2 linked regions of the Homo sapiens genome follow. The protein of the gene in region 1 purifies or fractionates together with the protein of each later gene. This does not show direct contact. Each region holds a gene or a part of one and is shown on either strand. Other genes may lie near its edges.

Evidence for each region. Proteins that work in one complex are often made in the same cells at the same time.
Region 2: the proteins of STYXL1 (region 1) and IDI1 purify together in Homo sapiens (affinity purification with mass spectrometry, with the first as the bait; one large-scale study listed by BioGRID). This does not show direct contact.

The regions. Positions count from the first base shown.
Region 1 is NC_000007.14:76,006,501-76,010,000, forward strand, and holds part of STYXL1 (serine/threonine/tyrosine-interacting-like protein 1), read right to left. Parts: intron 1-3,500.
Region 2 is NC_000010.11:1,039,120-1,042,619, forward strand, and holds the end of IDI1 (isopentenyl-diphosphate Delta-isomerase 1), read right to left. Parts: intron 2,386-3,500; coding exon 2,068-2,385; 3' UTR 300-2,067; downstream 1-299. UniProt on the Homo sapiens protein: Catalyzes the 1,3-allylic rearrangement of the homoallylic substrate isopentenyl (IPP) to its highly electrophilic allylic isomer, dimethylallyl diphosphate (DMAPP).

The sequences.
Region 1 (3,500 bases):
AGCCTGTAATCCCAGCACTTTGGGAGGCTGAGGTGGGCGGATCACGAGGTCAGGAGATCGAGACCATCCTGGCTAACACGGTGAAACCTCGTCTCTTCTAAAAAATACAAAAAATTAGCCGGGCATGGTGGCGGGCACCTGTAATCCCAGCTACTTGGGAGGCTGAGGCAGGAGAATGGCATGAACCTGGGAGGCGGAGCTTGCAGTGAGCTGAGATTGTGCCACTGCACTCCAGCCTGGGCGACAGAATGAGACTCCGTCTCAAAAAAAAAAAAAAAAAAACAAAACAACAACAACAACAACAAAAAACTTTCGTTTATTTGAAACACAGACAAGGATTATCTCTACATTTCCCAAAGTGTGTTCTAAGAAACACTAGTCCCCCATAAGGCACTATGAGAAAAGGGTTCAGGGGTTCAGATAACCAAATGCAATCTGTGTGTTCCACATCCATATATTCAAGCAACCTTGGATGAAAAATATCCAGAAAAATAATTCATGGTTGCATCTGTACAGAACATGTACAGACTTTTTTTCTTGTCATTATTCCCTAAACGATACAGTATAACAATTATTTACATAGCATGTACATTGTATTAGGTATTATAAATAATCTAGAGATGATTTAAAGTATACACAAGAGGGGCCAGGTGAGGTGGCTCACATCTGTAACCCCATCACTTTGGGAGGCCGAGGCAGGCGCATCACCTGAGGTGAGGAGCTTGAGACCAACCTGGCCAACGAGTGAAACCCCATCTCCACGAAAAACACAAAAATTAGCCAGGCATGATGGTGCATGCCTGTAGTCCCAGCTACTCGGGAGGCTGAGGCAGGAGAATCACTTGATCCTGGGACGTGGAGGTTGCAGTGAGATGAGATCATGCCACTGCACCCCAGCCTGGCAACAGAGTGAGACTCTGTCTCAAATAAATAAAGTATACGAGACGATACGCTTAGGTTAGACGCAAATACTACACCATCTTGTATCAGGGAGTTGAAGATCCAAGGATTTGGTATCTATTGGGGGCCCTGGAACCAACCTCCATGGATACTGGACAACTGTACAAACGGACAGCTGTATCTATGATTCCTCTCTCGGAAACAACACGTACATTAGCAATCAAAGGTTCAAAGAAGTTGGGCACAGTGGCTGCTCATGCCTGTGATATCAGCACTTTGGGAGGCCAAGGTGGGAGGATCGCTTGAACCCAGGAGTTCAAGACCAGCCTGGGTAACACAGCAAGACCCTTGTCTCTACAAAAAATAAAAAATTCGCCAGGCATGGTGGCACATGGCTGTACTCCCGGCTACTCAGGAGGCTGAAGTGGGAGGATCCCACAGGAGTTTGAGGTTACAGAGAGTTATGACCGCATCACTGCACTCCAGCCTGTCTCTCAAAAAAAAAAAAAAAAAAATAGCCGGGCACAGTGCCTCATGCTTATAATCCCAGCACTTTGGGAGGCTGAGGTGGGTGGATCACTTGAGGTCAGGAGTTTGAGACCAGCCTGACCAACATGGTGAAACCCTGTCTCTACTAAAAATACAAAAATTAGCCAGGTGTGACAGTGCACGCCTGTAATCCCAGCTACTCGGGAGGCTGGGGCAGGAGAATCACTTGAACCCAGGAGGTGGAGCCTGCAGTGAGCCAAGATTGTGCCATTGCACTCCAGCCCGGGCAACAAGAGCAAAACTCCATCTCAAAAAAAAAAAAAAAAAAAAAAAAAAAAAAATCTCAAAGAAGCTCTGCAGTAGAGAAATCCACTCCAACTGGATAACTTGATGTTTCCATGAGGCTCTGATTAGAGACCACTTTCTCCATTATTACACCACAGAAAATGCTGACCTTTGCCAAAGATCAAAATCAGTTCCAAAAGTCCCCTGGCTCTAAGTCTGACTCAGAAATAACATTTTAAGGACCTCAGGCGTGTGGGTCCTTCAGAGCCACCTGAACTCAGCACATCTCACTCCCTTCCCCACGGCAGTGAACCCTCTGCAAGCCCACATCCTTCCCAAGCTACCAGCTTCGAAAGCCATTAGTAAAGAACAGACACCAAGCTGAGCCAGTTCTCCAGCCTGTGACACGGAGATGCATGACCCCCCACTGCCTGCGGGCAGGCCCAATTTACTCCAGCATGTGGGCTGCCCCTAACCCGGATGGACGCTCAGCTTGCTGGTGCCAAATGAAATCCCCCTTTCAATTTCCACTTAAAAATCTCGCTAAAAGGCCAGGCATGGTGGCTGATGCTTGTAATCCCAGCACTTTGGGAAGCTGAGGCAGGTGGATCACCTGAGGTCAGGAGTTCAAGACCAGCCTGGCCAACATAGTGAAACCCCATCTCTACTAAAAATATAAAAATTAGGCGTGGTGGCACACGCCTGTAATCTCAGCTACTCTGGAGGCTGAGGCAGGAGAATCACTTGAACCCAGGAGGTGGAGGTTGCAGTAAGCCCAGATTGTACCACTGTACTCCAGCCTGGGCAACAGAGATGCTATCTCAAAAAAAAACCAAAACAAAACAAAACAAAAAAAACCCCACAAAAATCCCATAGCAAATCTATCAACCCCTCTTCCTGCTGTTTTTAAACCAGCTTCCTTTTCTGCGGTTGTGTGGGTTTGGCTGGGAAGAGGGTGTGATGTGGATAAAAACACACTGTACTGTAGAATGTGTGTAAATGCTCAGTGACACAATGCAAACGAAACCAGTATCTCAAATGAATATGCCCGAACTGGGCACACTGCCTTCCCCCAAAACCACCTCCTTCTTCCCCCACCCCGCCCCCTCCCGAGTGTTCCCCAGAATGAACCACATCACAGCCCCCGTCACCCACGCCTAAAACCAGGGCATCATCCCAGCCCCCTCTCTCTCCTATGCCCTCATGTCTGATCGGTGCTACCTCCTAAATCTTTCTTTCTTCTTTTTTCTTTTTTGAGATGGAGTCTCACTCTGTCACCCAGGCTGGAGTGCAGTGGTGTGACTCAGCTCACTGCAACCTCCGCCTCCCGGGTTCAATTGATTTTCCTGCCTCAGCCTCCTGAGTAACTGGGATTACAGGCATGTGCCACCACACCCAGCTAATTTTTGTATTTTTAGTAGAGATGGGGTTTCACCATGTTGGCCAGAATGGTCTTGATCTCTTGACCTCGTGATCCGCCCGCCTTGGCCTCCCAAAATGCTGGGATTACAGGCGTGAGCCTCCAAGCCCAGCCTTTTAAAAAAATTTTTGTGTAAACAAGGTCTTACTATGTTGCCCAGGCTAGTCTCAAACTCCTGGACTCAAGTGATCCTTCCACCTCCTCTTTGACCTCCCAAAGTGCTAGGATTCCAAGCTTAAGCCACCACAGCTGGCCAGTCACCTACATTCTAAAGACAGCTGCAAACAAGTAACCCAATCCAACCCTCACAGCTACCCTAGCCACAACCCTGCGCCTTCTTCCCAATGTGACTAGACTAGGAGCAAAGGCAAGTTTCAGGAATATGCAACTGTCAAAACGGACCATA
Region 2 (3,500 bases), on another chromosome or scaffold:
ACGACCTGGACTTGTCCCCAGGGAGCAGGTGGAGGGCAGTTCCCACAGGGACGCACTGCGGGTACGACCTGGACGTGTCCCCAGGGAGCAGGTGGAGGGCAGTTCCCACAGGGATGCACTGCGGGTACGACCTGGACTTGTCCCCAGGTGCCAGGGCCAAGTAAGAAGAAAATGTGCCTTCCTTCCTATTATACCATTTTCTGTTTTGGTCTTGTTCTCTTGATAATATAGGTAGGGAAACAGAATCAGCAATTATTAGAAGGCCACCTCTACTTTGTCCTTAAAGGAGTTGGCAATGGTTTGACCAGAATCAAAGAAGTATATATTTTGAAGATTAAGAGTTTAAAACAGTTTAAGAAAAAAAAAATTTATAGGTACCATTTAGCTTTCTAGTTGAAAACCAACACATCTGCCTTTGGGGTCAGAAGCAGCTATATCTAGGAGAGGGATACTCCTCTTTATAAAAGATGAAGGAGTTCTAAGGAGTTTATCAGGTCAAAAGACATTCCTTACATTTTCTGGATGGCATCCTAGTAATATTACAACAGTAGTATCTAACTCTTGCTAAGTACTTAACAAGGTGCTGGGTAGCAGTCTAAGGGTCCCATGTCCAATTCAGTAGCCATGGCAACTCATAGTTATCACATAACTAATTATATGTGGCTTTCAGCCTAAAACTTCCTAGAAAATAAAACTAAAAAAATTAGAAACAATATTATAAATGCAACGGAAACTATACAGGCAATATCCTATTAGTGTATCAAAATTTTAACAAACTAAACACAGTATTAAATTGCAATTTTTTTTACTTTTCAATAAAATACTTGCTAAACAGTCTTGTCTGAAATTATAAATTGCCCAAAGTTAACCATAAATGAGTCATTCTATTGAATTTAACAAACATTTAACTTTGCAAGAAATAAATTTTTATTTTTCTTCATTATCATACAGCATTTAAGAATAATAAATCTGTCTTGAGGTTTCAAATCTGAGATATCTATGGCAAGTTTATAAAAAGTACATTGATCAAGGTACAATTTTTAACATTAATATACACATTCCATAATCTCATCTATTTAACATTAACACAGGCCTTTGTTGTTGTTATTTTTTTCTCCCTACAATATTTCCTGACTCTGTAGGACAGTGGTCCTCAGTTGGGGGTTGACTCTGTCCCCTAGGGGCATCTGGCAACATCCGGCATAACTGTGGGTGTCACATGAGAGGGACGCTGCTCACCATCCTGCAATGCACAGCACAGACCCCACCACAGGGGTTTTATCCAGCCCAAATGTCAACAGTGTCAAGTTTAAGCAACTCTTACCGAGTGGGACTCAATTCCCATTTTATGAACACCTCTGTGCTCACTGTAATTCTGAAAACACAGACTTTGCTAACTGGTAAATACTATTTACAAGAAGATTCAACCTAATCAATATCACTTATCAAAAGCAGTGGCTGACTGTAAGTATCAACATGTTTCCAGAATGAATAAACCACACAATCAACTCAGAATGATACAAATTAGGGTCCATATCATTTAATTTCCCTTGAACCTGCTCTGCTAGTTTAATCTGCTAATATGAAAGTTAATTAAGACTGTTTTGAAGGAGCGAGACAATAGTTTCCTTTGCACATTTTTCTGAACTATGAGAAAAATTTAATGATACATAAAGCACCTGGCAAATAGCAAGTCCTCTGCAAGTGCTCCGGAAATGTTTATCACAGCCTACTAAAAACAGAGTTTCACTCATTTGTTCAAATTTCCCATAAGTATGTATCTGCAAAGATTAAATTAAGTTTTATTTGCTCGCTCTCATTTTACAATAATCTCTCACAAATGTCGCTTAGAAACAGAACACATATCCAGGGTGTGTGATACAAAATTATAAGTTAGTTTTTTCCACACAAGTTTTAAAGTATCAGTGTATATAATACATTAATGATAGTACCAAATGATAGAACTAAATTTAATGATAAATTAATGATAGAACTAAATTTAAAAGGAAAAAGTCATTCTAAGTTTGTTAAGCAGATAAATTTTTCTGTAATCATTTACCTACATATTCACATTCTGTATATTTTCTCATGGTCAACAAACTGATTCAAATGATTTAAGTTATCCCACCATTTAAAGAGAAAAGTCGCTGCAATAATTTTAAACCATGGCGTTATCTTAATTTCACCACTGGCTGCTTTTTTCAGAAGTTCTTTTAGTTCTTCCTTTGACACATAACAATAGCTTTTAATCTCATTGGGATCTGGATTCAAAGTTACATTCTTCCTCACCAACAAAATGTAATCAATTTCATGTTCACCCCAGATACCATCAGACTGAGCTTTGTAGTGAATTCGTGTTAAATAATTAATTTCTTCTGGAGGAACCTAAGACATTAAAAAAAAAAAAGTAATTAAAACATCGGCCACCGTAACAAAAAAAATCTAAAATTAGCTCACTGTATTACAGCGATATCTCGAACAGCAGTATAGTTTTAGGATTAGAACTTGGTTAAAGCATTAATCTCCTATCAATGGTATATGGAAATCTTAATATTATATATGGAAAAATGATTACATCATTAGTTTCAAGTGTTTGCGTTTTTTTCCCGATCAGATAAGTTTTTTTTTTTTTAATGTTAAAAAAAGGGGCAGTCACTCAAACTAGAAATGTGACATTCTTCTTTTTCTTCTTTTTTTTTTTTTTGTGAGACGGAGTCTTGCTGTCACCCAAGCTGGAGTGCAATGGTGTGATCTCAGCTCACTGCAACCTCCGCCTCCCAGGTTCAAGCGATTCTCCTGCCTCAGCCTCCTGAGTAGCTGGGATTACAGACGTGCCGCCCCACCATGCCCAGCTAGTTTTTGTATTTTTAGTAGAGACGGAGTTTCACCATGTTGGTCAGGCTGGTCTCGAACTCCTGACCTCGTGATCCACCTGCCTCAGCCTCCCAAAGTGCTGGGATTACAGGCGTGAGCCACCACGACCGGCCCGACATTTTTCTTTTTCATATTTTAAAATTGCTTTTTGGAAAATATAGATAAGAAATACTTTATTTATCCAGGTCTTATTTAAGGGGGACAATTCCAAGAAAAAAAATGATTTCAATTAAACCAATGAGATTTATGGTTCATATTCCTAAGAGTTTCCATCAGAAAATCTTCACCTTTTTTGTAGGTGGGGAGTTTTAGGTGAGAACTGGAAAACCTGTCAGTTAAATTCTACAAGAGCTGTAACACTTGAAAATACTCATCTTAGATTTGATCAATTATAGAAATATTCAACCTTATATAGTGCTTAACAGATCAATCCATCCCCGTATTGAGCTAAGTTTTGACAAGTGATATTAAGAAATTAAAATTTAAATAATCTTTATTCAAGATGGTTTGTGGGGCTAACTCATAACTCCGGAGGTTACCAAGCAGAGAACTACATTTGAATTTAAAAATTTTATTAAAAACCTTTTTATAGTATGTTTAGGTTTCAGCTTGTATGGTTGTGTAGG